Regions from separate parts of the Homo sapiens genome. Here region 2 is linked to region 1. The links come from fine-mapping of genetic effects on gene expression. Tissue or cell type: whole blood. Region 1 holds a variant in brackets; the other region holds the start of a gene. All regions are shown on one strand. Distances are between the middles of the regions.

The links.
Region 2: LINC02977 starts here. The variant in region 1 is fine-mapped to the expression of LINC02977 in whole blood (TOPMed, PIP above 0.99).

Annotation. Positions count from the first base shown.
Region 1 is chr9:112,067,432-112,084,046 of GRCh38, forward strand. It overlaps SUSD1 (sushi domain containing 1), which reads right to left. Exons shown (of 17, transcript NM_022486.5): 11 at 12,643-12,734; 12 at 11,107-11,293. Among named protein-coding and RNA genes, the nearest start is that of LINC02977, 35 kb to the left of the region's middle. RefSeq lists enhancers at 6,285-6,454, 9,660-9,759. The variant G/T (reference allele first, on the strand shown) is at 9,310.
Region 2 is chr9:112,035,312-112,049,520 of GRCh38, forward strand. LINC02977 (long intergenic non-protein coding RNA 2977) reads right to left here and starts at 5,113. Exons shown (of 3, transcript NR_186812.1): 1 at 2,868-5,113. It overlaps SUSD1 (sushi domain containing 1), which reads right to left. Exons shown (of 17, transcript NM_022486.5): 16 at 6,556-6,649; 17 at 5,472-6,181. The coding sequence ends at 6,181. RefSeq lists enhancers at 5,721-6,360, 5,756-6,955, 6,361-6,999, 7,111-7,160, 7,251-7,320 and 1 more.

The DNA.
Region 1 (16,615 bases):
GTTTCTGTCACTTGCAACCAAAAGAGCCCTGACTATAGAATGCATCCAGCGCCTTGGTATTCTGTGGAAAGGCAGAACCCTCAGCTGTGTACTGGCAGGAACTCTGGTGCTAGGCCAAGTGAACACGGTAGGGAAGTGGTCCTTATGCATTTGTGCAAGAAGAATTGCTGTGAATTCCAGGCAAATGCTAAACCCCTTGGGTGGTGGAGACAGTGAGGACAGCAGGAAGAACTGCCTTAAGAATCCCCTTTAGACCCTGGACTAAACCACCCCTCCTTCAAAGTCTATCACTGCATCAGCTCAGTAGGGCAAGGGAGGAAGGGCATGATGGAAGGAAAGAGAAAGAGCTATTAAAAACATATGTATGAATGCCTCCCCCCCAATCCCCCCACCCTAGCCCTAAACCCTGCCACTGTGAACTGAAGGACTCTGAGGCCAAAATAGATTCTCAAGACTGTATTTACCAGATTAGAAAATAGCTTTGGGGTAGAAACCCTCAATCTCAAATTATAATAAATAAAAACTTAGACCTGCCTGGACCTTTACAGTTGTTAAAGCACTACTATATATATTATTCATATATCTGCATTCAACAAACACCCATTAGCCACCTCTGCCGCAGGCTCTGTGCTAGGCTGGGGGAGACAAGCACAGAAGACATGCTTTCTGCTTTCTGGGAGCTTGGAGTGTAATCATGGAGACAGTTTTGTAAAGGTAGTGCCCAGAGCTGTGATGGAGTTATATACAGAGCACTGTGGATGTGAGGAGGAACATCTAACTGAAGGCAGGGAGCTGAGCCTATCAAACACGGAAATAGACATCTGCAGAGGCATGAGGTGGTGGCAGGGAGGGATAGAACTACATGGAGTTCCTGGCTGAAAGGTTGAGGTCTGGCAGAGTAGAAGTAGGTGGTCAAGTTAGAGGGGTAGGTGTGGGTCAGATCTGAGAGATCTGAGGTTCCAGAAGTAATAAGAAGCCATTGAAAGATTTTTAGCAGGCTGGGTGCACTGGCTCATGCCTGTAATCCCAGCACTTGAGGCAAGCAGGTTGTTTGAGGCCAAGAGTTCAAGACCAGCTTGGGCAACATGGTGAAACCTTGTCTCTACAAAAAATGTTTTAAATTAGTCAGGCACAGTGGTGTACACCTGTGATCCCAGCTACTCATGAGGCCAAGGTGGGAGGATTGCTTGAGCCCGGGAGGCAGAGGTTGCAGTGAGCCAAGATTGCACCACTGCACTCCAGCCTGGGCAACAGCTAGACCCTGTCTCAAAAAAAAAAAAAAAAAATATTTTTAGCCGTTCTGCACTTCAAAAATACAACTTAGAGAGCTGATCAAAGGATGAATAGAAAAAGGGCAAAAATACAGGTTGTCCAATAATCCAGGTCGGAAGTGCTCGAGGTCTGCTGCAAGTGAGAGCACTGAGAATGGAGAAGAGGGAACAAACGGAAACCTTGCTCAGGGGAGAGACGGCAGGAATCTGGCAACCAAGTCAGCAGTGATGTCATTTACCAAGTCTGGGGGAAGACGAGAAGCAGCTCACTTCTAGGTCTGTTCAGGTTGAAGTGTATAAGGAATCCTCCAGCAGGCAGTTAGAAACATAGGTCTGGAGCCTAGGAGCAAACCCCATGGTGGAGATACAGAGGCAGCTCACAGGGAGGAGTGAACGTGGCCACCAGGGAGCCAGTATCAAAGTATGTGAGGAGAGATGGGGGCCAAGGGCGGACCACCGAGAAACCCAGGCTCTAAGACCAGGTGGAAGAGTAAGAGAACTCTGTGGCCTTTATGAAACAGTGTTAGGTCTAGAATTTCTCCCAGAGTCTCTTAGACACTGCAATATAGATCATGTTTTTCCTAAACCTGCGGCATTGCCAGGTGTCCCAGGAGGTCACCTGGAAAAGCCTCTGCTTAGAGTCTAGGCCTCACATCACTCATTTGTTGAAATGAAGGTCTATGCTATTTTCAAGAGCAGTCCAGAGAGAGATTCTGTAGGATACAGCTGAGAAGACAACAGCTGGATTCCTGTGGCAGTGATGGAGGAGAGAGGAAAAGCCCACACATGTCCCCTGGGAACGTACCCCTTCCCCTTTGAGATCGAACTGCCCTCAGGCCCTTTGCTATCACCGAAATGCCCTTTCACTTGTGACGTTTTGTTGTCACAGTAAAATTAACTTTTTTTATTACGTGTCTCCTCTTCTCAGCCAAGGTGGAGATTAACTGGTCACTCTTTTCTGTGTGAGAACTCCGCCCCACCCCACCCCGCCCCGCCCCCACCAGCTCTTTACTCCAAGAGTAATAATTCTAGTTCCTCTAATCTCTTGGCTAACATTTTAAAACCACACAGGAGAAGCAGAACAAAGTACTCACTGAGCTCAGAAGAGGCAACTGCAGACCGAGCAGGAAGGCCATCCCCCTGCTTGGTCCAGGTGATGTCACTCTTTCCCAATCTAGAGTCACAGTTTTCAAGGCACCACAGTCATCTGGTTCAATCAACATGTGACTTTGAGACCATTTTCTGCTCTGTTTGCCTAAGGTCTCCCTGCCCTATATTTTATTTTATTTGTTTTTGTTTTTGTTTTTGCTTTTGCTTTTTGAGATGGAGTTTCGCTCTTGTCGCCCAGGCTGGAGTGCAATGGTGTGATCTCAGCTCACTGCAGCCTCCGCCTCCCGGGCTCAAGCAATTCTCCTGCCACAGCCTCCCGAGTAGCTGGGATTACAGGCATGCACCACCACACACGGCTGATTTTTGTATTTTTAGTAGAGACGGGGTTTCTCCATGTTGGCCAGGCTGGTCCCGAACTCCTGACCCCAGGTGATTCCACCTGCCTCGGCCTCCCAAAGTGCTGGCATTACAGGCATGAGCCACCACGCCCAGCCGCTGCCTTATATTTTAAACAGTCTACTTTTTCTCTCCAATGTACAAGCCTAAGCCTCGTCAGGCTGGTTCTCAGCCACATTTCGAGGTGGAACAAACTTGACTTTCAGCTGAATTTTCCAAGGTGCTCTTCCTTGTCTCCCAAACTGATGTCCTGGGTAGACCTGCTCTCCTTTCCATCAACCTCGTTACTGATTTAAACTGATTTAGACCCAAGGCAAGAAATGGGTCCTGCCTGTGCTGGAAAATATAGCTCTTTCACCTTGGGTGTGTGAGATGGGAGAGGAACCAGAACAGAGACCTTCATTACCATCCTCGGATGTCAGGAATATCCCTCCTCTGCTAGAAGCAAATGGCAAAAGAAATCCTCACATGGAGGGAAATGTGGGGAAAAGTAATGAAGGAGAATTTGCTCTGCAAAAAAAAATATTAAATGTATCATAAAATTACAGCAATTGAAATAGTAAAGTACACGCACAGGACAGACAAACAGTGAAAAAAAGCTAGACAGTCTGGAAAGAGACCCAAAGAAATGCACCAGGTGGCATGGATGGTCAGTAGTTCCAAAGGTGATAGGGAACTGGCTTACAGCTGGGGAGAAAAATTACAATGTAAATTTAGCCTCATATCAGACATCAAAATAAATTCCAAATGAACCTAAGTGGTTTTGTTTTGGTTTTGTTTGTTTGTTTGTTGTAGAAAAGTGGTCTCACTGTGTCGCCCAGGCTGGGGTGCACTGGCATGATCATAGTTCACTGCAGCTTTGAACTCCTGGACTCAAGCAGTCCTCTCTCCTCAGCCTCCTAGAGCGCTGGAATTATAGGAATGTGCCACTGTGCCCAGCCTGAAACTAAATTTTAAGTGCAAAAAAGTAGGTCAGGTGCAGTGGCTCCCACCTATAATCCTGGCTTTTTGGGAGGCCTAGGCAAAAATGATTGCTTGGGCTCAGGAGTTTGAGACCAGCCTGGGCAACATAGTAAGACCTCATCTTTACAAAAAGAAAAAATTAGCAGGGTGTGGTGACATGCACCTGTAGTCTCAGCTACTTGGGAGGCTGAGGCAGGAGGACTGCTTGAGCCCAGGAGTTTGAGGCTGCAGTAAGCTATGATTGTGCCACAGCACTCCAGCCAGGGCAACATAATGAAACTCAGTCTCAAAAAAAATTGAAAAGAAAACAAAAGAGTAAATAGCCTTGGAGTAGGAATTTGTAATATTTATCAAAATATTAATATCACTAATGAAGGTAAACTATTAAATCAACCAAAGAAAAAGGGTAGTATAAGTACAAATGTGTTAAAATGTCTCTATGTAAAACCCATCAAAATGAACAAAAAGAACCAAAAATGGAAGAAAATTTTATCTGCATCAAAACTAAGCAACGTCTCCAACTTTGTACTGCAAACTTCAAGTAAACACAAACAATTGAATTAAAACACAACTCCACCGCCCAAAAACCCAGTACAATGCTACTTTTCTGGATTTTCTATAATAAAAAGTAGGTAGAAAAATAAACACAGCATGATGGTTCTTTTCTAATCCTCAGGCACCTCTCCAGATATATCATCCCATCCAAGGCATGGTAAATTAAAATTGAAGGCAACAGAAAAAATAGTGTCTTCCACTACAAGTCATCAGCTAGATATATCTTCTCCATCAATAAAGTTATGAGACTTCACCTCCCAAGGAGAAGAAACCAATTTCTTTTCACATGTACATCCTCAGTAGGCAGCACAGGTCTTTGTACATAACCAATCGAAAAATATTTGCTAGTGACTTCTCAAGACATCTCCTTTTATTATTTATTTATTTTTATTCTTTTTTATTTCTTTCTTTCTCTTTTTTTTTTTTTTTTGTTTTTTTTTTTGAGACGGAGTCTCACTCTGTTGTCTAGGCTGGACTGCAGTGGCACAATCTCAGCTCACTGCAACTCTGCCTCCCGGGTTCAGGAGATTCTCCTGCCTCAGCCTCCCAGGTAGGTGGGATTACAAGCACCCACACCACACCCAGCTAATTTTTGTATTTTTAGTAGAGACTGGGTTTCACCATGTTGGCCAGGCTGGTCTCGAACTCACCCACCTCAGCTTCCAAAAGTGCTGGGATGGGATTACAGGCATGAGCCACCGTGCCTGGCCAACCCATCTCATTTTTAACAAATACAAGTAAATAAATAAATATTTGCTAAATTAAATTGTTACAGCTCAGCAAGCCCCTCCCCCTCTCCCAACACACACAGAAACCCTAGTTTCCAGGCTTCTGATCTAAGAATACCTTCTCATGCACGTTTTATAAAAGCTAACTTTGGCTGAGATTCAGATGCTGGTAGCAAGAGGGTCTGGGAGACACCCATCCCCACACAGCCATTTACTTGGGGGCTTGGGGTTTGTTTTGAAGCTAGAAAGCAGTTGGGAGATTTCTGGGAATGAGAGAAATACGTGGACTGTGGAAGCATGGAAGGGCAAACATGCCTCTCCTAGCGTGACCTAATGTTAGGGCTCCAGATATCAAAAGAGCCTGTGTCCACGGAAGACTTGGAAAGGAAAACAGCTGGCATGAAGGCCAGTCCCTCTGCTGACCTGTGGTACAGCTTCAGCCCCCTTGGAGCCAGGGGGGCCCCCAGGGATAAGTGTGGTACCTTGGAACCAGCCAGGGGAGATGGGTTTCTCACTGAGGACACAGGGGTACAGCATCCTTGGATGGTTTGTGGGTAACCAACCATGAAAGAGAAGCCTCGGTAAAAGAAACCAAGAGACCTAGTCCTGCACAGTCTTCCCTGAGGACATCCCATTGTGGAGGGCGGTGTCAGAGGCAGGGGCAGGGAGGATCAGGGCAGTCCTGGCTGGACCTCTCTGATAAAGTGACAATCTGATAAATGCCTGGGACACTCCTGTGTTTTCTGTTGTTTTCCTAACCGTCTGAAAAAGTACTTTCCTTTTTCTTGTTATGAATACAATGAGAGATGGGAAATTTCTTGAAGAAGTTGCCAGCCTTGGTACTGAAGACATGGGAATAAATAATTTCCTTTTCATCTTTTCTTCCCTTTGCTCCTCCAGCATGCTTGGTTCCATAATAAACATTCCATCTCAAATGATCACCATGTTGTGTAAGACAAGTGGTCTGGTTTATCTCCACATTTACGTATGTATTGGCTTTCTCACGCTCACTCTCTCTCTCTCTCTTTCTCTCTCTTCCCCACCCCGCCCCCACCCACCCCCATCCTCCTCTCTCTGGTTTCCTCTTTCTCTCTCTATATAAGAAAATGTTGCCTACAAAGCTTTTAGACTTAGCAAGAAAATAGCATACTCAGCTGGACAGTGGCTCATGCCTGTAATCCCAGCACTTTGAGAGGCTAAGGGCAGGCAGATCACTTGAGGTCAGGAGTTTGAGACCAGCCTGGACAACATGGCAAAACCTCATCTCTACTAAAAATATATTTTTAAAATTAGACGGGGCTGGTGATGTGTGCCTGTAATTCCCGCTACTTGGGAGGTCGGGGCATGAGAATCGCTTGAACCTGGGAGGCAGAGGTTGCAGTGAGTCGAGATCACACCACTGCGTAAGCAACAGAGCAAGCCTGGGCAACAGAGCAAGACTGTCTCAAAAAAAGAAAGGGAAAGGGAAAGGAAGGGAAGGAGGCCAGTGCAGTGGCTCACACCTGTGATCCCAGCACTTTGGGAGGCCGAAGTGGGCGGATCACTTAAGGCCAGGAGTTCAAGATCAGCCTGGCCAACATGGTGAAACCCCATCTCTACTAAACATATAAAATTAGCCAAGCGTGGTGGCACACACCTGTAATCCCAGCTACTTGGGAGGCTGAGACATAAGAATCACTTGAACTCAGGAGGTGGAGGTTGCAGTGAGCTCAGATCACGCCACTGCACTCCAGCCTGGGTGACAGAGCGAAATTCTGTCTCAAAACAAAAAAAAAGAAAAAGAAAATAGCACACTCAACATGTGGATGCTCTTCTGACTCTTTGGGGCCTGCATCAAGGATGAAAGTTTGTTCCTCACCCTGTCCTAAAGGGGATGCGTGCCGTGGGGCTATCCTGAAGAATTCAGTTCAATGTGCCGTCTGCAGCCTATCAGCCAAGAGTCAGAAACACCGTGAGGCCACAGCTCCATCTCACCCACCCCCTCGCCAGCCCCTGCTTTCCTGCATTCACCGAAACACTTGCCTCTGTCCCTCAACATTCCTAGAACCTTCACTGTCCTCTGAGGTCAGCGATGTATTTAAAGCACTTGTTTTCATCCTGTTCCCATCAGTAAGATTTAACGTAAGACACTCAGAAGGGAAATTCCACTCTCTTTCCTTCTGGGAAATGAGCAGCTACATTGTCCAGACCCAAATCCTTAGCCTAACACATCTGCCAAAATTCAAAAGTTCATGATTTTACCGAAATAAGGCCACACACTTCTTAGGAAACCACGAGTATCTCTGCACATCAACACATAAGCTTCTCTTTTTTCCTCCTTTTATAAAAGAAAGGGGTTGGTTTTTTTTTTTTTTTAACTCTTTCATAAGATCAAAGCAACTTGATTTTTTTATGCTTCTTTAAAATTACGAGTCCTTTAAAGTGGGTAGAGTTGGAAAATAGGCATCTCAATGAACATTAAACAGCTCAACAATGTCCCCTGGTGGCCATGAGCACAGAGAGAGGGAACTTGAGCCACTAAAGCTCTATTCAGCCTACCAAACAAGGAGTAAGTGTCTCATCAAGATGAAACCCCCTCCCCTTTACTCAAAAAAATATGCAACGGTCCTTCAAACCAGAAAAGCACAGCATCCAAATATGAGAAAGACCACAGAGTAGGAAATGGAGATGGAGTCGCTATTCATTTTAATAAGTCACCACAGAAAGAAATGCCCAGACTGAACACCACTTGTCTCTCCAGCCCAAAATGTGGGGAATTCTTTCTGGTAGCCAGAATTCATTGCCTAACCAGACATCTCCTCAACACCAATACCACCCACTGGCTGTTATTTTAAAATTTTGGGCTGTTATGCTATCTATCAGTACCATTCTTACCCACTGAGGGTTGAATGTAAAACATACAGACAAAAATCACTGTCTTCAGGAAGCTCCTATTTTAGTGGGAGAGAAAGAAAATAAAAAAAAAATAAGTTTTTAGAAAACAAGCTCTAGGCTGGGCACAGAGACTCATGCCTATAATCTCAGCACTTTGGGAGGTGAGATGGGAGGATCACTTGAGGCCAGAAGTTCAAGACCAGCCTAGGCAACATAGGGAGACCCTCATCTCTACAAAAAATAAAAACAAAAAAATCCCTTTTGTAATTAGCCAGGCATGGTGGTGAGCGCCTATAGTCCCAGCTACTCAGCAGGCTGAGGCAGAAGGATTGCTACAGCCCAGGGGCTCAAGGCTGCAGTGAGTTATGATTGCACCACTGCACTCCAGCCTGGGTGACAGAGTGAGACCCTATCTCTAAAAACTAATAATTAATATTTTTTATTAATATGAAGCTCTATGAAGAAATTGAAGCAGGGTAAGTAGATACAGAGTACTAGCGTGGAGGCTGGTGATGGCAGTTGAGCAGGCACCTGAACAACTATGGAGAAGCCATATGTTGACAGTGTCCCAGGAAGTGTGAACTGCAGATGGAAAAGTCTGGAGGCTGGAAAAACTTTGACCCATTGAAGGAACTGCAAGAAGGCCAGGGAGACAGCTGATGCTTAATGGGAAAGGAGGAGAGCAGGGGGAGATGAATTAGAAGTAGGCAGGGGCCAGATGACATGTCCTATGATGAGGAACTTGGATTCCATTCTAACTTTAATGGAAACTCACTGGAGAGTTTTGAGCTGGTGCTGACATGTTCCCAAATGCATTTTTAAAAGATCACTCTGAGTGCTGAGTGATCTTTTGAAAGTTATGGTGAAGACTAAGACTAAGGTCCAGGGTGGGAGGTATATAGGCAAGAGAAAACCAGTTTGAAAACTACAGCAGGAATCCAAGCAAGAGGTGGCTGTCTTGGATTAGGGTAGTTGTGGAAAAGGCACAGGTGGGGAGAAGTGGTGGAATTCAGAATATATTTCAGACAGCAAGCCAACAGGGCTTGTTGACAGATTAGAAATTTGGGGATGGGATAGAACCAATTAGGACTTGTTTTTGGTCTGAACAATTGGGTGAACAGAAATTCCAATAACAGACAGAAAGTAACAGATAGAAACAGAGAAGCCTGGGTGGAAACCGATTTGGGGGCGAGGGCAGAGGTGAGAAATCACAAGTTCCGTTTGATTTGCGTATTAGATGTTCAATAGGACATGTGTAGAAGTTGGGTGGATATAGGAGTCTGGTGCTCAAAGGAGAGGCTGGGACTAGAAATTGATCTTTGGAAATCCTCTGCATATAGGTAATAGTTATAGCCATAAGACTGGTTGAGATCACCTAAGCAGAAAGGGTAGATAATGAAGAAAAGGAGGCT[G/T]AAGAGGGGTCATAAAAGTAGATGGAGCTAGCAAAGAAGACTGAGAGGGGACAGCAAGGCAGAAGGAACCAAAACTAAGGGAGAGGGGGTTTCAAGAGGGAGGGAGTGTCAACGCTATCGAAGAAATCAGATAAGAACAAAACTGGCCATTGGATTTGGCAAGACGGAGATCAAACGAAGAGCCTTTCAGTAAAGCAATGAAGACGTATGTTTCCCACGTGGGATGAGTGAAAGTGAGAACAGGAGGTAGGGCTGTGGAGCCTACAGAACAGCCATTTCTTTCAAGGAGTTTTTATAGAAAGGGGCAGAGAGAAGGCAAAGTAGCTGAAGACAAATATGGGCTCAAAGAAGGTCTGCTCATTTTTTCTTTCTTTTCGTTCACAAGGAGGATGTTGCAACATGCTAGGCAATGCTGGGGATAATTCTGTATTGAGGGGAAGTGCTGATCAGGGAAGAAGGGATGGGATCTAAGGCACAAGTTGAGGGGATGGCAGCCTTACACACGAGCAGGGACAGGAAGGGAGGCAGAACAGGATGCAAGGAGGAACGGCAGGGCTGAGCGTGGGAAGTCCTCACCTGACTACTTCTAATTTCTCAGTGAAATAAGAATCAAGAAGCTAATATGCTTAGTATTTGCTCAGAGCATGTGTGAAGTGGGGGTCACAGATGTGAAGAGGGAGGAGAAAATGAGTGGAAAGTGAATTTACTGGGGCCCTATAGCCGGAGGACTACAATCATTGTCCCCTGATAGTAATCTACTTTTTTTTTTTTTTTTTTTTTTTTTTTTTTGAGATGGAGTTTTGCTCTTGTTGCCTAGGCTGGAGTGCGATCTCAGATCAACACAACCTCCACCTCCTGGGTTCAAGCAATTCTCCTGCCTCAGCCTCCCGAGTAGCTGGGATTACAGGCACCTGACACCACACCCAGCTAATTTTTGTATTCTTAGTAGAGGTGGGGTTTCACCACGTCAGCCAGGCTGATCTCGAAATGATCCTCACATGATCAACCCTCCTCAGCTTCCCAAAGTGCTGGGATTACAGGTTTGAGCCACTGTGCCTAGCTAGTAATCTACTCTTAAAGTACTTGCAACAGGATGCCAACTAAATATTCCTGAGAAAGAAAGAGCCACAAGCATTTTTTGTTTAAGTATAAAGTATTTTAAATGCTTTAAATATCCAGAAGCTATACAACCAACACCATGGATGGACACACTACCCACATTTCATCAATGCTGACATTTTGTTTCAGGTATCTTCCCCCTCCCCCTCCCCACAGACCTCCCCTGTGGTTATTAGGTATCTTTTTAAAAATAAAACATAACAGGCTGGGCGCAGTGGCTTACACCTGTAATCCCAGCACTTTGGGAGGCCGAGGCAGGTGGATTGCTTGAGCCCAGGAGTTCGAGACCAGCCTAGGCAACATAGTGAAACCCCGTCTCTACAAAAAATACAGAAATTAGCCAGGCATGGTGGCCTATACAACTATAATCCCAGCTACTCAAGAGGCTGAGGCAGGAGGATCATTTAAGCCCAGGTCAAGGCTGCAGTGAGCCATGATCGTGCCTCTGCACTCCAGCCTGGGCGACAGAGCAAGACCCTGCCTCAAAAAAAGAAAAAAGAATGAAACATAACAGTCACAGAGGCGCCTTAAGGCACCTCTCCAATTCCATGTCCTTCCTCCTCTCCCTGTTAAAGTTCATTATATAATGATAAAAAGCAACAGTGTTCCTCTTTATCAGGACCTATGAACAATTCTGTGGTAACTTTGTTAATCCAAATGCTGTTATTCAAGATTTACCTGTTATCTGGGTTGTCAGGGAGATGACCACAGGAAGTTCCGAAGACAGAGCCCGGAGACTGACATTGTAGTTGGTACCCGGACGTAGGTCCAAGCACACCTCGGGATCTCGGCTGCTGCTACTGATATTAAAGGTCATTTCCTGGGCAAATTCCTTCTGATACCATCTCTGGCCCCAAATGTGGAACTGAAACATAAAAAAGCTCACTGGGTGAATGGTTGGCCTAAAAGGCTTTAGATGCCTTGAAACCTCCCCTTTTCCTTTTTCTTTCTCTTTTTTTTTTTTTTTTTTTGAGATGGGGGCCTCACTCTGTCACCCATGCTGGAGTGCAGTGGCATGACCTCGGCTCACTGCAGCCTCAACCTCCCAGGCTCAAGTGATCCTCCCTCCTCAGCCTCCCAAGTAACTGGGACCACAGATGCATGCCACCACATCCAGCTAATTTTTGTATTTTTTGTAGAGACAGGGTTTCGCCATGTTGCCCAGGCTGGTCTCAAACTCCTGAGCTCTAGTGATCTGCCACCTCGAATCCCAAAGTGCTGAGATCACAGGCGTGAGCCACCGCGCCCAGCCCCTTCCCGTTTTCATGAGCTTTCTTCCTCTCTCTCTCTCTCTGGACTCTAATGTTTCTTCAAAAGGTGAAATGCAGCAGTAAGCAAATATTAGAGTTGCAATACTATAAATATTGTACTTAAAATATTATTTGTATAATAAATATATTTTTAAATAAAAACACACAAAAGGCTAAGGTCCCAATACTGGCAGCTTTCTCCTTATTCTCACACATACAGTGCACATACACAACAAGAAAGTCTATTGGCAAAACTGCAGGAGCAAGGACAAGAACATTTTCCTAGAAAGAATATTAGGAATCCAAACTAAGCAGGACCTGAATTAGAATACTCGTAGCTGGTCTGCTAGAACCTGAGAACAGTTTTTCTCCTCTTCCTGCCAGCTTCTGGTGACCCTACCCTTTCCTTAACCACCCTGACACTTCGGCCAAGAGACACCCTTTTGTTCTTACTTAATTTCTTCCAGTAGAAGTTCATCCCAGTCTTCCCCCTCCTTTTTTTTTTTTTTTCGAGACAAAGTTTTGCTCTGTCACCCAGGCTGGGGTTCAGTGGCGCGATCTTGGTTAACAGAAACCTCCACCTCTTGGGTTCAAGCTATTCTCCTGCCTCAGCCTCCTGAATAGCTGGGATTACAGCTATGCGCCACTACGCTCGGCTAATTTTTATATTTTTAGCAGAGACAGAGTTTCACCATGTTGACCAGGCTGGTCTTAACTCCTGGCCTCAAGTGATCCGCCCGCCTCAGCCTCTCAAAGTACTGGGATTACAAATGTGAGCCACTGTGCCCAGCCACTGTCTTTAAATACACAGAAGTGGCCATCTTCTTGCTTCTTGATGCAATTGTCACAGTAAATCGTCTACTGATAATGATAGTTATAGATGTAGATTTTTAGGTTTGTGGGTATTTTTAAGCCTCCCACATAAGACAACCATCTATAAATACAGTAACTTTCAGTCACTTACTAAATACATCTCCTCCATATCAGCTGTCTTGATGCTTCTCCATCTCAAGCAGGTTTCATTAAATCCTGAAATGTTACTGATGGTCTGTTTTACTGTAGTGGAAAAGAAATGAGAAATCAATTTACACTCTATAGAAAAAATGCTACCTTTTAATTGAGCCATTTTTCCAAGGATAAGTGTTAGCATGAGTTCAACAGTATTTTAATTTAGAAATTAGTGGTAGCAGTCTCAAAGTAATACCACTTTTATATCTAGGTAAACTCAGTCTTGATGAAAGATTTCAGATCCAAAGATACCTAATCGGAGGACCCCTCTTAAGAATTATTTGAGTGGGCCGGGCACAGTGGCTCACGCCTGTAACCCCAGCACTTTGGGAGGCCAAGGCAGGCAGATCACTTGAGGCCACGAGTTCGAGACCAGCCTGGCCAACATAGCGAAACCCCATCTCTACTAAAAATACAAAAACTAGCTGGGCGTGGTGGTGTGTGCCTGTAGTCCCAGCTACTTGGGAGGCTGAAGCAGGAGAATCGCTTGAACCTGGGAGGCGGGGGTTGCAGTCAGCAGAGATTGTGCCACTGCACTCCAGCCTGGGTGACAGAGTGAGACTCTGTCTCAAGAAAAAAAAAAAAAAGAAAAGAAAAAGGAAAAAAATTATTTGAGTCTATTTACTGCAAGCTTCCTTGGCTTACTAAGCTAAAATTACAACTATTTGTCCTGGACCTTGTATACCCTCATTTATACAAATAAGTGTCGGTTCGAAATTCTGAGCTAAGAGCAACATTTCAGCAGAGAATTGCTCCTTGAGGAACTGAAAAAAGTGCTTTGAAGCAATCAGGTTTTTCATGAGGAAAAGAATAGGAGGTGGCGGGATTCTCTTGGTTTGGGCTTCCTTATCTCTTGTGAGCAAAGAAATATTTCTTGTCCTCTGCTCAGTTTCATAGTAATCAATCTAAAAGACAGTTCAGATCTGATACAGTTTAATGTGGAGGTACACCCATCCAAGTAGTCAAGAAAGACTATTTATTCAAAACCCTGACATCAGAGGTTACTTCCTTCAATAAGGATCTCTGTCCCTAAAGTGGAAATAATAGAGCAGACTTGCTAAGAAGTTTCACAGGAACACTGTGATGATTAACGAGTGATAAAGACAACTCCCAAATTACGTGAAAAAAGGAAGGTCTCATGAAAGGTAAGGCTGTATTTTGTAACTCCCTGGCCTGACAGGTTCCTACAAATGAAGCCAAGTTGGTAGACACGACTCCTCTCTATGGATTGGGCAGCTTGGCACAAAGAAAACCTGTACAAGTCACAAGCTGTACCTCAAATGTTGCAACACGGAGCAGGTAGGGAACAGGAGGAAAAGATGAACAGGTGGTAAGGAACAGGAGGAGTACAGATGATTCCAGGTTAATGCAGACCCACAGCTGGGTAGAGACAGGTTTGGAGATTAGTAGTAGTGGTCCAAAGTTACACTTCTGAAACTTTCAAAATACAAATAACTCCAATAGTATTTAAACAGTTCTAGACTATACAAAAAGGTGGAAGGGTCCCCAAATCATTTAATATGACTAAATAATCCACAATGCCCGACCTGTACAAGGATGGCACAGCCAATCACTAAACATCCTATGCCAAATTTGCTTGTTGATATAAATACAAAAATCCAAAATAAAATATTAGCACAAAGAAGTCAGTAGTACATTCAAAGAACAATACACTACGACCAAAGATTTATTCCCAGAATACAGAGAGTATCATTATTGGAAAAGCTATTAATAGGTTAAAAGAGAGAAACCATGTGGTTACTTTTATAAATGGAACTGTTAATACATTTAATATACTTTGTTAACTTGAAATCTTAGTGAGCTAGGACTTCATTTGACAGAAACGCCTTAGTTTAATAGGGTTTATAAGAAACCACCACACTCAGTGGTAAAGCAATTAAGCAATTTCTAGTAAAGTTAAGAACAATACAAGGATGTCTGGTCTTGTAGCTATTACTGAGCCTTATTCAAGAGATTCTAGACAATGCAGAAAAAGGCAAGAAAAAAAAATGAGCTATAAATGCCAGAAAGAGCAACAAATGATGCAACTGCCAGTAAATCTAAGAGACTCAACTAATCAAACATGAAACTGTTTGAAAATAACAGAAAGGCAACATACAAAAACTGATCATTTTCTATCTATCTTCAAGAACAAGTATGGTAGGTTAAATAATGACCCCCACCCGCCACCAGCATGTCTACATCCTAGTCCCTGGAACCTGTATGTTACCTTACATGGCAGAAACACTTTGTAGAGGTGACTAAGACAGTGAGATTATCCTGAATTGTCCAGATGAGCTCAATGTGATTACAAACATCCTTATAAGAGAGCAACAAGAACATAAGAGTTAGAAGATTTAAGAACGGAAGCAGAGGTTAAACTGATGAGCTTTAAATATGGCGGATGGAGCCACAAGCCAAGGAGTATAGGCAGGATCTAGAAACTGGAAAGGGCGTGGAAATAGATTCTCCCCTAGATACCCCCCGCCCCTGAAGAAACACAGGCCTACTGACACCTTGATTACAGCTTAGTGAAACTGATTTCACACTTCCGACCTCCAGAACTATAAGACACTAAATTCATGTTGCTTTTAGTTTTTGTTTTGTTTTGTTTTTTTGAGACAGGGTCCTGTTCTGTCACCCAGGTTGGAGTACAGTGACCTGATCATGGCTCACTGCAGCCTTGACCTCCTGAGCTCAAGTGATCCCCCTGCCTCAGTCTCTCAAGTAGCTGGGACCACGGGCACACACCACCACGTCCGGCTTATTTTTTATTTATTTTAATTTTTTTGTAGAGACAGGGTTTCTATGTTGCCCAGGCTGGGCTTGAACTCCTGGGCTCCCACCTCAGCCTCCAAGCAATCCTCCTACCTCAGCATCCCAAAGTGCTGGATTATAAATGTAAGCCACTGTACCCAGCCCTCATGTTATTTTCTGCCACTAAGTTTGCAGTAACTTGTCATAGCAGCAACAGAAAACTAATACAACAAGTAGCAGAATATAATAGAAAAATAAAAAGATCCATATTCATGAGATGGGATATCACAAGCAAACTTCAAATACCTAGAAATAAACCTAACTAGAAATGTCCAAAACTTACACGAAGATTTTAAAGAATTTTTTTTTTTGAGATGTAGTCTCTCTCTGTTTCCCAGGCTGGAGTGCAGTGGCACAATCTCAGCTCAGTGCAACCTCTGCCTCCTGAGTTCAAGCAATTCTCCTGCCTCAGCCTCCCAAGTAGCTGGGACTACAGGCATGCACCACCACACCTGGCTAATTGTTGTATTTGTAGTAGAAACAGGGTTTCACCATGTTGGGCAGGCTGGTCTCGAACTCCTGACCTCAAGTGATCCGCCCACCTTGGCCTCCCAAAGTGCTGGAATTACAGGTGTGAGCCACCGCCCCCAGCCACCACAATTATTTTCTTATCTCACGGAACTAATTTATACTGATTGAAAAAGCTTTTACAGACCAACATAGATATTAAATTTTAATTGTATATTATAAGACAAAAATATAAGCAAAATTAATTGAGACATTCCTAAAATTTCTTCACGGTCAGAATATAACAAACACTTCTCAATCACTTCTCAATTAAGAGTTGTTGGTGTCTATATTTTTCCACATAATAACATCCTATGTGCTATCTATCCAGAGTTTGGTGAGGCAGTATTTCTTCAAAATGTGCTCTTTTTGTTTCCAGAACTTTCTCGCCATCCACTGACACCCATTCTGATGCTGAAAGTTGATCTTATACTTTGCCGTTCTGTTCCCATTGCGCTTTACATATTATAACACTATGTCTCAATGTCAAATCATAATGTAGCTTTTTGGAAAAAGTTTTAGTAGGCAATTGATCTCAAGAAATAAATGGCACCACTAGTGTCCGTAACTAAATAGAAGTGACAGCACTATGAGCAACTATGACC
Region 2 (14,209 bases), 33 kb before region 1:
GTCAATTTACAGACCCAGCATATGACAGCTCTTGGCAGCTTTGACACCACGTGGTAGAGGGTCCAGAGGTCCCTCAGTACAAGCCTGGAAAGAGGAGCTTCAGAGAGATCTCCACTCAGAGAATATGACTTGTGTCCTCTACAGCAACAGAAGACACAGGGCCTCGTATCTGATTCCAAGGATAAGAAACCCAAGGGTCAAGAGGTGGAGGCTGCCAGACTAGTGGCAGGCAAAACAAAAAGAAGCAAGCTCCATTTCCACCAGTCAGAGGACAAAGGCTCTAACAGGTAAGAAAACTGAAGTCTGTGGCTGGAGCCAGCAGTGACGGCAGGAAAACCCTCTGTTTGGCATGCCAAAAATCTATGAGTTTCCATGCATCAAGCAGACACTCTAGGAAGTAATTGTGCTGGAAAAGCCATCTTGATATGATTTCCCAAAAAAGGCCGACTGGCAGAGCAAAAGCACTCCTGCACTTTCAGGGGCTGGAGCTGAGATAGAGGCCAAGAGTTCAGAATAACAAAATATAAAATAGCTAGACAAGCACAACAACATATACATATGAATGACCTTGTAAGTTATAAACTAGAATACTCAGGCCAGCCTCGGTGGCTCATGCCAGTAATTCCAGCACTTTGGGAGGCGGAGACGGGAGGATCACGTGAGGTCACGAGCTCGAGACTAGCCTGGCCAACACGGTGAAACCCCCCTCTCTACTAAAAATATAAAGATTAGTCAGGTGTGGTGGCACGCATCTGTAGTCCCAGTTACTCGGGAGGATGAGGTGGGAGAATAGCTTGAAGCAGGGAGGCAGAGGTTACAGTGAGCTGAGATCATGCCACTGCACTCCAGCCTGGGCAACAGAGTGACAGAGTGAGACCTTGTCTCAAAAAAAAAAAAAAAAATTAATGGAAAAATAATGGTAACTTATTCTTACTTGGTATAAACAAAAACCTATTTTAAAGTTACAGTAGGTGGTATTGGCACAGAAATAGATCAGTAGAACAAAAGAAGAAGTTCAGAAATAGACTTCAGCATATGATTCAGTATATGATTTCAAATCACTAACAGAAAAAAACAGTCAATGAATTTTTTTTTTTTTTTTTGGAAACAGGGTCTTGCTCTGTCACCCAGCTGGAGTACAGGGCATGACCATGGCTCACTGCAGCCTCAACCTCCCCTGTTCAAGGGGTCCTCCCACTTCAGCCTCCCAAGTAGCTAGGACTACATGTGCACACCACCACGCCTGGCTAATTTTTGTATTTTTAGTAAAGACAGGGTTTCACCATGTTGGCCAGGCTGGTCTTGAACACATGGCCTCAAGTGATCCACCCACCTTGGCCTCCCAAAGGTTACAGGCGTGAGCCACTGAGCCTGGCCTCTGTTAATTCTTATTTTTTGTAAAGATTGTGTGTCGCCATGTTGCCCAGGCTAGTCTCGAACTCCTGACCTCAAGTGATCCTCCCACCTCAGCCTCCCACAGTGCTGGGATTACAGGGGTGAACCACCGCTCCTGGTCTCAATGACTATTAATAGGACAACTAGCCAACCATTTAGCAACGATTTTTATTTAAAAAGATACCTTCCCCTGCCTCACTCCCTATCCTAAAATAAATTATAGATGGATTAAAAATTTTTAATGTTTAAAAAAATGCTAGATTATATTTAGTACCTTGAGATTAGAAGGTCCAACATAAGGAAAAAGACTGATAAATTTGACTATACAAATTTAAAATTTTTGTGTGGCAAAATATAATACAAACAAGATTGAAAAATTATGAACTCGAAAAATTGTTTACAAAACATATGACAGGAATTAAAATGACTACAACATAAAGAGCTTTTTCAAATCAAAGACAAATAGGCCAAGTACTGAGAAAAAGACAACTCACAAAGACAGAATTAACAACTGGCCAATCAACAAGCAAAATAATCAGAGAGACACAGACAAAACATTGAAACATCCTTCTTCACATACCAGATTAATCAAGATTAACAATACAACAGCACTCAGTGGCGCTGAGGCTTTCTGCTGGTAAGAGTGTAAATTTTTGTATAAGTTTTTGCATAAAACTCTTCCAGCAATCTGCACTGTAAAATGTACATAGTTTCCATTCCAACAATTTTACTTCCAGGAATGTGGCCTAAGTGATAATTGCATACCTTCATACTGACTTTTATAAGGACAATAAACATCTGAAAATATTCTAAATGCACAACAGAGTATTGGTTAAATGAATTATGGTACAAACTTATAATGCAGTCATGAGTGACATGAAAAATGTGGCCTGGAAATGATGACTGAAAGAATCATGTTACAAAACCACACACAAAATTTGACTCCATTTAGGTAATCCTGAGTTGAGTTTGACTCTATTTTGGTAACCCTGAGTTGAGCCCAAAAAGTATGGATCTAGATGTGCATGCCCCACCCCCCACCCACCACACACACACACATACTCCACCACCACCACCCAAAGGATTCACTCTCTCTGAAACAAGAGCACACACTGCCTTTTAAATTGACTTGCTTCATGGACTCACCCTCCCACAAACTGGGGCACAGAAAAGGCCACATCCTTCCTCCCCAGAAGCAGGCACTGCTTTGTTGGTTCAGTCTAACCAACAAAGGATGTGGTAGGTAAAAGGTTCTTACAACGCTATTTGATTGACTTCTATGAGACCATTGAGTTCCTCTTAGAAGAAAAGAATGGGAAAACAAAAGGTTTAGAAAATCAGAAAATGTGAGATTAGCAATGAAAAGGGAACACTGAATGTTCTTTTTTATTTCCTTTAAAATCAATTTAAATATTAATTTTATTCCAAGCTAAAGTGGAATTTCAAGATAATCACTTCTGCTCTGGTCTTACCTTACGTGCCCCACTGCAATTTCAGGTCTCGAGTCAGAGAACAGACTATTTCCTCTTCCCCTTAATTAACCTCCATCCATTTGCTTGATTGTTTGTGGCTCCTTCTATAAGGGATGGGTGGAGGTGCCTTACAGTGAAAAGACAGGTATACATACACACACACTGTATATATATAGATTGGAAATTCAAAGGCATGACATTCCTGGGAACCAAAAAGCCTGTCCAAAGATTAGCTCCATAGCTAGCTCAAGGGCTTTCAAATGCCAGAAAAGAGAACTAGGGCAGCCAGAAGACTTGGCCCCACAATTCAAGTATTAACACTGAGCAATTCTGTGTTATAATTTGCAGCAGTTAGAGGAAATCCCAAAGTCCACGTTTTTGTTATTTCAGTAAATTTTTTTGGATCTCACTCTGTCACCCAGGCGGGAGTGCAGTGGTGTCACCACGGCTCACTGCAACCTCAGACTCCTGGGCTCAAGCGATCCTCCTGCCTCAGCCTCCTGAGTAGCTGGGACTACAAGTGCACGCCACCATGCCCGGCTAATTTTTAAAACTTTTTTTGCAGACATGGGGTCTCGCTATGTTGCCAGGGCTGGTCTTGAAGACCTCCCAAAGTTTAGTAATCTTATATGAACTGCTTTTACTTTTCTGCATTGTACCCAGAAGGTGATGTTTTACTTAATATTTAGTCAGTTATTTTAACCAGAAACTTTTAATACTAAGCAAGGGGGATTTCTTCCTTTCTATCACAATTATACTACATTCCATGTGGACAACTGTATCTCTGGCAGTTAATTCTAGAGGTGGAAATTAGGGAAGGGGGTAGTATGGAAGCATACAGCATTTACAAAACTGGCAAAAAATAAAATAAGTCAAGGGGAGGCTCAGATTCTTTCTTTGGACAAAGGTGGGCTTTGAGGAAAGATCCTCACTCATCAGAGGCCGAGCCCTACACTAACCACAGTAATTTGTATTGATACCCAATTTAGTTCAGGAGCTATAAAAATGTATGTTTGCGGCCAGGCGTGGTGGTTCATGCCTGTAATACCAGCACTTTGGGAGGCCAAGGCGGGTGGATCACGAGGTCATGAGATCGAGACCATCCTGGCTAACACGGTGAAACCCCATCTCTACTAAAAATACAAAAAATTAGCTGGGCACGGTGGCGGATACCTGTAGTCCCAGCTACTCCAGAGGCTGAGGCAGGAGAATGGCGTGAACCCGGGAGGCGGAGCTTGCAGTGAGTCGAGATAGCGCCACTACACTCCCGCCTGGGAGAAAGAGTGAGACTCCGTCTCAAAAAAAAAAAAAAGTATGTTTGCATTATTGCACATAAAAATTAAAAATTGAGAGCTATTTGTATTCATCTATTGAGAGAAACGGTCTCTGGGGGTTAGGATGGGGACCTGTCCCCATTATAGACCCGTTCTGGTCTATAATTTACCTAAGACGAGAGCAGAAAGGGTTTTAAATGCTGATCCTAAGTTGTCGTCGGAGGGCAGTACCCCAGAGGACAGGGGAATCATTCCTAACACTGGCAGGGGCCAGAGGCTGACAGCTGGCATTGAACACCTGAATGTCAGGATATTACTCGCCTCTCTCTAATTCTTCCCAATAGAGCGGATACACTCTGGACTCCCTGGGGTGGAGCAGCTACATGGGCAGTTTGTACTTGTTCCTCTTGTCTCTTCATCTGCCCATAAGCCCAAGGCACTCAGAGTCTTCCCTCACTGACACCCAGCAAGCCGGTGAACACACCGGCCCACTGCATTGGGAAGCCCTTTCCTTTTGCTAAGGACTGCATTCGTCTATGCTGCATCTTGAGGCTGTGCAGTATCACCTCCCCTCCTCCATGGTTTTTCTTCTCTAGGCCTAGCAGGCAAGGGAGAAGGAGAGATGCCAGAAGCCTCTGTCTTTCCTTCCCCATTCGTTTCTTACTGAGTCTTGGAGTTAAATTGTTAGTTAGTGCCGGGCGTGTGGCTCACACCTGTAATCTCAGCACTTTGGGAGGCAAAGGTGGGCGAATCAACTGAGATCAGGAGTTTGAAACCACCCTGGCCAACATGGTGAAACTCCATCTCTACTAAACATACAAAAATTACCTGGGCGTGGTGGGGGGGCCCTGTGGTCCCAGCTACATGGGAGGCTGAGGCAGGAGAATCACTTGAACCCGGGAGGCAGAGGTTGCAGTGAGCTGAGATCACGCCACTTCCCTCCAGCCTGGGCAACAGAGTGGGAGTCCATCTCAAAAAAAAAAAAAAAAAAAAGAGGAAAGAATGCCAATTCATGATTTAAAAGTAAAATCAAATAGACTCCAGCTGTCAACTTAGCATATTCACAGTAGGTCCAGCACCGCTTATATCTAATGTTTCATAGTTCATAATGGAGTAACATTCATAGTTACTGAAGTTTAGATAAAAGAAGTGTCACCCTCTATGGCAACCCCTCCCCTGAAACACACATGGACTCTAGTCTAGCCATGGGCTCAATACTGTTTTAAGCATTGCTACTACACTACCACCAAATCTCAGTTTCTAACAGGGGGCAAAGAGCATTTTTAGAAGACGCTTAGTAACAGAAAAATTAACCAAGGGAAGAACAATCTTAATTACGGGATATTTTTACTGGAATGTAGACATTACTTTTGAATATATAGGACAATAGAAATTGCATCAAAGCAATGCTGCCTAACAGACACAGCAGGAAACTTATTGGCATGGCCAGGCTAGTATATTTTCTCATTAGTATATCAACTAATTATAGGAAAAGTACTGTTTCTAAAGTGCTTGAAACATTTGCCTACGTCACTGTTCTCTTTTTCAATGACCTCCTTCATAAAGTCAAACTCTAGCCCAAACTTAAGCCCATCTCACTGCATATTGTAAAGAATGGATTCTGAATGAATTAACAGAAATGCTTTTATATAGGAGGTTGCAGAGATTCTCTTGCAGTCAATGTCTAGAGGAGCTGACCCTCAGGCATCACTCAGAGGAAGTCCCAGCCAAGATTCACAGATCTGTATGTAGCCTTCGGTCAATATCACAGTGTACATCAGGAGTCTCAAGTTCATTGCACAGAACTGGTCCTGTAGCAGGGAAGACTCAGAATTCCTGAGTTTTCTCCTTATGGTGACTCCTCAGGGATAGCCACCATCTTAAATCCAGGAATGGGGCCCAGCTGGGAATGGAGAAAGTTGCAGGCCCACATGCTCCCTGGACGGAAGTCACACGGAGCCTCTGTGCGGGCACCTGAGAAGCTGCCAGAACACCTGCCCAGCAGCAGTGCATCCTCCCCACTCAGTGTCCATCTGCCATCTAGACATGGAGGAGGAAAAGAAAAGAGACAAATATGAACACACTTTGGTTTTCCCACTGTGCATCTCTATGCACAGCTCACACGCACACCCATGGGAGGAGGCGAGGGGGAGCAGCATGGAAGCTCAGCCACCCCTCTGTGTGTGGCCAGGGCAGCCATCACTGGTCCTGCTCTTTTCCTGGGAAGGCATCCCCCATGCTACCTGGAGGTACAGGGTTAGTCATGCCTTTCACCGCTGAGTGTGCTCTGCTGAGCCAAGGACAACCTCCACCCACACTCCCTTTGACTCCCCTCATCCCCAGCTGTTCTTCGTGACTCTGACCCATCCTCCCCTCCATTCCAGTCATTTCTCAAAAATGACACCCTCACATACCACACCGCTGAGAAGGAGAGGAATGTGAGAATGATCACAACAGCCAGGGAACCCAGTCCAACACCCGCCATCTGCAGCAGCATGAGTGACGAATCTGTGGGACAAAACCACAGGCTTAGCCCAGAGTGCACGGCATCACCACCTCCCAGGAGGCACACACCCCACTGTGCTCAATCCATTTTAACCCAGAGCTTGGCCCCATTTAACAAAGAATCCCAAGAATGCCCAACATGCCTGTGTGTCCCCTGAGTTGGCCCTGTGGATATGCAGCCTCAGGAAATTACAGTTACAAGGTATTTCTGAAAAGGAAGTGTAAAGCCAGACCATGTTAAAGTTACAAGGGAGAAAACAGCTAATCTTGTTGAGCACACAAATACTATGCAACGTGTTACATTTTTTGTTGGTCCTCTCACAATCAATTACATTTGATAGATTTTTATGGGCCGTTTTCTTTTGCATGGAGGGACAAGTCATTATGATATTATTTGAATTTGGTTTCCAAAACTGATAGCCCTGATGGTCAGATAGAGCAAAGGAATATCCTTTGTTGAGTCACCTGTCATTTTCTCCATACCTCAACAAGGGTCATACTTCCCTGCTCAGGTCAGCAGGTTTACTGAGAGGATAAAAGTACTTTGAAAGACATACTTTCTATTTGGGGACCATCACATGCCAACTCCAGGGAGATCCCCGATTATAAACTAAAAAACACTCACAGTTGAGTTGCACATGTGGGCCAAGTGACTGACTTAGAGAATCATGTTCTAGATTAGAGCAAAAATTTCATTTTAATTTGCAAACACTTACTTAGCACTTACTATGTGCCAGACACTGTTCCAAGCACCTCACAAATATTCACTCATTTAGGCTTCTAACCAGCCTTCACATTGGGTACTATTATTATTCCCTTAAGGAACCAAGGTGGGAGTGGCTAAGTACAACTCAGGTCTTTACAGCCAGGTTAAGAGGAGTGCATTTCTATTGGAAACTCAGTACAGTACCTGGCACTAGTAAAACCAGCCATAGAATACACCTTGTGTTAAACAGCCCTGCAGAACTTGAAACCGCCTTTTTAAAAATTATAACCGAGAAAATTATAACCGTGAAAAAGATCTGACCTGACTGACTCCATCTTGCTTCTAACCTCCAAGTTGCCCCTGTTCATTCCTGGGCGTAGGCTGAACTAACTTTGGGAGGAACTCAGTTTATAGTTTAACTTTGAAACAAAGACGATAATAGCCCTTTCCCCAAACAAATCCCCATCCTGTCTGGGGACTAGACTGCCTTTGCAAGACTAACAAATTAGCCATGAGATTAGAAATTATGGTTTAGGGGTCCTACAGCTGGAAGCTGCAAGATTCTGAACTGCTCAAATTGCTCCTAGGGCTAACATCACTATTGTAAAACCTAAGATCAGTGCTTGAGATATTTTCCAGACCCTGCACTCCATGGATCGGCTGGCATCACCCAGATCCATAAACTGGTTCATCTGATCTTGTGGCCCCCAACCAGAAATTGACTCAGTGCAAGAGGACAGCTTCGACTCTGTGATTTCATCTCCAACCCAACCAATCAGCACTTCTGACTCACTGACCCCCCCATCCCCTACCCCCTACCCACTAAGTAATCCTTAAAAACCCCATCCCTGAATTTTCAGGGAGACTGATTTGAGTAATAATAAAACTCCAGTCTCCCATACAGTTGGCTCTGTGTGAATTAAGCTCTTTATTGCAATTCCTCTGTCTTGATAAATCAGCTCTGTCTAGGCAGCAGGCAAGGAAAACTCATTGGGCGGTTACTAATTCTCAAAAAATGCTGCCAAGAGCCTTTCTAGAAAACATGGCTTATATTATTTGGTTGCTTTTAGTCTATAGAAGAAAAATGGCCTTGACACTTTAAGAAGCTAGATTACTTATTTTGTTTTATTTTATTTTTATTTATTATTATTTTTTGAGACAGAGTCTTGCTCTGTCACCCAGGCTGGAGTGCAGTGGCATGATCTCGGCTCACTGCAACCTCCACCTCCCGGATTCAAGCGATTCTCCTGCCCCAGTCTCCCTAGTAGCTGGGACTACAGGTGTACTCCACCACGCCCGGCTAGTTTTTGTATTTTAGTAGAGACAGGGCTTCACCATGTTGGCCAGGCTGGTCTCGAACTCTTGACCTCAGGCGATCTGCCCATCTTGGCCTCCCAAAGTGCTAGAATTATAGGCATGAGCCACCATGCCCAGCCAAGAAACTAGATTATAAAATGGAAGGAGAAACAGTGATTAAGTGAAGAATTAGTAAAGAAAAAATATTAGGAGAGTGACTTGAATTGCAAGACAGTAAAACAGTGCAGTATTAGAATAGGAATGAATACATTGGAACAAAATAGCCTAGAAACAAATCCAAGCATATCAAATACTTTCAAAGTTTGAATACTGGAGTCAGATGTCCAAGTCTTTATCTGAACACCACCACTGCCTGTGTGACTTTGTGCAAGTTATTCATCCATTCTGTGTCTCAGTCCCCACACTGAGGGATGCTGTAATAACATGGGAATGATAGCAATACTACCCACCTCTAGGTAGTGGGAGAAGTCAGTGAGTTAGTACAGGTTGAAACAGTGCCTGGCACAGAATAAGCAATAAGCAAATGTTAGCTATTGTTAATTATTATTGTTTTTGTTGTTTTGATACTGTTTCAGATCATTGGGGAAATGATAAATTTTTCATAACCAGTGCTGAGAAAATTGGCTAACCATTTAGAATCAAATAATTTTGATCACTAGAGCTTACACCATATATCAAAATAAAATCCAGATGGATTACAGACTTAAATTGAAACCTAAAAGGATTAGGAAATGTTAGTGAATATTTACCTAATATTAAAGGGGGTAAGAAATTTCTAAGCATATTCGTTAACACAGAAACCTTAAGAGAATGAGAGATTTAACCACTTTAAAAAGCATGCACTTCTTATACCAAAAACTACCATAAGCAAGATTAAAAGGCAAATGGCAAGCTGGATAAAATATCTAGAATAATGGGCAAGAAGTTAACATACAGAGAGTGTTACAGATTAATAAAGACATACCTCAATAGCGAAATGAGAAAATTCTACGAAAAGGTAAATCACATGAAAAACATGATTACAGATGATCAATAAAACTTTGAGCAAATGCTCTCTTACAAGTAATAAAAATGCAAATTAAGGCATTAAGATGCCATCTTTGTGCATGACTCAGAAACATTTTTTTAAATGCCATCTTGGTGGACTAATTAACTAGATTTGTTTTGTTTTGTTTTGTTTTTAAGAGAAAATACAATTCTGGAGATGAACGGGGGAGCTGGTACTTTACTGCACTGGCATTTCATCCGATCTACCCAGTATTCCTTCCAACTTCTGACATCAAGTTTTTTTCTGTGTATTTTTTCCTCTACACTTTAACCCTCTGTATATTTTAATCACTGATTGATGAATATGTTGAACTGAAGATGACTGTGGACAGAAATCCATATCATGCATATTCTTGGGTTTGATTTCAACTCATCAATAATTGTTAATGAGTTGATATCAACTGTGCATAGCCATTCAGCTTGTTTCTAAGCCCACATACAGCTCTCATGTCCCCACATTGTCCACAAGGACATTATTGTTATTATGCGTGCCATATTTCCCTGACCAATTACTGACTCTGTGCAAGAAGAAATGGAAAGCAATCTGACCTAATCTGCTCTTAAAGCTCCTGACTCCCGGGAACTGCTGTTTTTTCTACCAGGGATACACAAGCCATCACTTGAAGACCTTGCTTTGCCTTGACTTCAAGTTACCATCATCTACACTTCTGGTGGTTCTTCCTTTGTACAAAGTTCCTTGTTCTTTGCTCATCTCTAGTCCTCTTACATCTCTCCATTTTCTTCAAGGTTTATTGAAGATCATTTGCAATGGTTTATCCATCTCATGTGAAAATTGTATGAACCTGCCAGAATACGCTACATCCATGTTGGAAGACTTGAACCTATGTAGGGTAGCAAGCTCTTTTCTTTCTTCTAACTATCCCCTCACAAACGAAGAGGACAAAAGCTAAGTAGGAGTTAAGGAAGCTGACTTTCACTTGACCATCCACCAGCAGGATCTACCTGGGCACAACTATTCCTTACTCTAGACATAGTATTGGAAAATGATCTTTATTTATTCTGCATAGCACAATTTGGGTTTGGCTCCAGGAATGATTCTTGCTGGTAGATCAGTTCCTGGTTATATGTCTTTTTGTCTACTTTGCATATATACTCTAAAAATCTGAGTCAATCTAATCAAGAGTGCTCACAAGTGTTGCCACACAAGCTTCTTTAGAGACTTTCCTCATTAATTCCTTAATAAGAAAATTTACAACTGGCAAATTTGAATTGTATTTTTTATAGCCTCACCATCCTTTGGTTACCCTACCTTTCCATGGTCTCATGCCAGAGAACCATGTTTATTTTTCTTCTGAATCACTTGTAGAATATTTTTTTACAAACCCAAGTGAATCACTCATGTGTTATATCCCACATCAGTTACTCAATCTTGGAGAAAGTAAGTCCATTAAGACTAAACTTCACCATTCTCTTTATGGTGGCTCCCTCAAGAGAGCTAGTGCTCAGGAGGAGTGATGGGGCCTTGCTGGACTTATCTTTAACCCCTTCCCTGATAGAAATATCACATGCTGAAGAGGAAGTTAGAAAGGCCCTATTTCTACTCTCAGACTTTGTGACAGCTTGAGGACGCTCCATGGGTGTGGACATTTTTTCATGAATATACACGGGCATGGTCACTTCCTGAAAGCACCAATTCTGTTCTCCAAATGGTAAATAATAATAAAAATAATAATTAGCACAGTGACTTCTATTTACTGTGTTAAATTTCTCTTTGCTATTCTAGGGTCTTCTCACTTGAATTCCATTCAGAGCCAAAGATGGCAAAGGAAATCAAAGTGGAAAACTAATTTAAAGATAAGTTTAAAGATTAATTTAAAGATTAATGCTTGATACATTAGCAACACTGTTATATTCCATTTTTATTGCAGTTTAACAAATCACCACAAACTTAGGTAGCTTTAACCCATTTATGAGCTCAGAATTCTGTGGGTGGTAAGTTCAGGCACATTGTGGCTGGTTCTCTGCTCAGGGCCTGTATTAGTCCCTTCTCACACTGCTATAAAGAACTACCTGAGACTGGGTAATTTAAAAGAAAAGAGGTTTAATTGACTCACAGTTCCACAGGGTGTACAGGAGGCAAGGCTAGGGAGGCCCCAAGAAATGTACCATCAAGGCAGAAGGTGAAGGGGAAGCAGGCACAGTCTTCACATGGCCAGAGCAGGAGAGAGAGAGAGTAAAGGAGGAAGTGCTACACACGTTCAAACAACCAAATCTCATGAGAACTCTATCACGAGAACAGCAAGGGGGTAATTCATTCCCATGATTCAGTCATCTCCCACCAGGCCCCTCCTTCAATACATGGGGATTACAATTCGACATGAGATTTGGGTGGGTACATAGAAGAAAACCGTATTAGGGCCTTACGAGGCTAGAATCAAGGTCTCAGGTGGACTGAACTTCTTTCTGGAGGCTCTGGAGAAGAAGCTGCTTCCAAGCTCATTCAGGTTATTGGCTACATTCAGTTCCTTGCTGCTATGGTTTGAGTTTATATCCTCTGAAACTCACTTGAAATTTAATCCTCAATGTGGTGGTGTCAGGAGTTGGGACCTAGTGGGAACTATTTGGGTCATGGGGTTGGAGCCCTCATGAACAGATTAATGCCCTCTCTCAGAGGTGAGTGAGTTCTTGCTCTGGAGGGGCTGTATTACCAGGGAGCTAGTTGTTATAAAAATGAGTCAACTTCCTAGACTCTTTCTTGCTTCCTGTGTCATCACATGATCTCTTTGTATATACCTGCTGGCTTTTCCACTTCTCTACCATTGTTCTGGTGAGCATGTAGCCCTCACCAGAAGCAGGCCAGATGCAGTACTATGCTCTTGAACTTCCCAGCCTACAGACTCATGAGCTAAATAAACCTCTTTTCTTAATAAGTTACCCAGCCTCCAGTATTCTGTTATAGCAACACAAAACAGACTAAGACACTTGCAGTTATAGGACTAGGGTCCCCATTTTCTTACTGGCTGCAGCCAGGCCTTGCTCAGCTCCTTCTGTTAAGCTGCACTCCTTGCCATGTGGACCCCTCCATCTTCAAGCTGCAGGAGAATTTCCCTATGTCAAATCCATCTCATTCTTTGAAGCTCCAACTTCCCCTATCTCTGACCTCTAGATCCAGATTTAAAGGGCTCCTGTGATTAGGTCAAGCCTATCTGGATAATCTCCCTATTCGGGAGCTTAAGTACATCTCCAAAATCCCTTCACAGCAATACCTAGAACAGTCTTTGAATGAATAACTGAGAGAAGGTAGATGTATACCAAAGACAAGGAATTTGGGAACCATATTAGAATTCTTCCCATCACAACTATAAAGGTTTAAAATGATTGTGTGCATGTATATATGTACATATATACACATATATGTACATATACAGTAAATACATATGTATACATACACACTAGGTTTATATCCTGATGTAAGTCTTCTCTGGCTTATTTGATAAGTATTGCACCTCCTATGCTTCATTTCCCATAAAACTAACTGCTGCTTCCTCAGTAATCATTCAGCCCAATTCAGTGCATTCTGATTGAACACCTAATGCATGCCAGGCTCTGTTCCTCCTCTTCAAATGCCCTTCAAGGGTGTAAAATCTAGTAGTAGAAGACAGACAAAACAAGTGCACACCCATTGCTCTAAAATATAGCAGAATAGCCAAAGAAGGGCAGATCCTGCCCTGTTGAGAAAATTTAAAAAGCTTCAGGGAAGAAAGGGCATTTGATTTTAATCTTGAAAAACAGGTGGGATAAGCAGAGATTCACAGGTGGGTGATCAGGAAATCCAGATGGAAGTCGTCAAGTAATTATATGAGCAAGGACATTAAGAGGAGAAAGCATGGGCCATAGCCAGAAAACAGCTGGAACATTGGTTTGAATGGAGAAGAATAAAAGATGTAATTAGAAGGGTATGTTTGTGTCAAATAGAGGACTTGGAAGCCAAACTGAAAAATAATGGAGGACCACAGAAGCAGAGGAAACAAAATCAGTTCTGAGTTTAGAAACAAGTCAGGTGGTGGTGTGTAGGCTGGAATGACGAGGGAAATTCTGAACTCTTGTGATGGGAGATGAGGAAGGAGGATTTGCCCGTCATCCCTGCTACAGGTAGGAAGGCCTATGCTCAGGGAGTGAACACAGAAATGAAAATCAGAGAGGCGTGCCCAAGGTGCTAAATGTGGGCTGAAAGAGAAAAAGGAGTAGTCCCGAATAACTCAGAGGTTTCATGCTTACGACTGGAGAATGTTCCCCGATTACAGCTTATTATCATCTCACATATATCAAATGACCTTGCTTTGTGACTCAAGAAATCACAGACTCATAATACTCTGTGGCTGGAAAGCATCTCAGAGATCCCAGAGAGAGGGCGACTGAGAACTGGCCAAGTTAAATACTATTTCAAAGACACTTGGCTGATTAGTAGCAGAAGACTCAGGCAAGTAAGCCCAGGCCTCTGCATCTTCCATCAAACCGACTGCTGGTTTCCT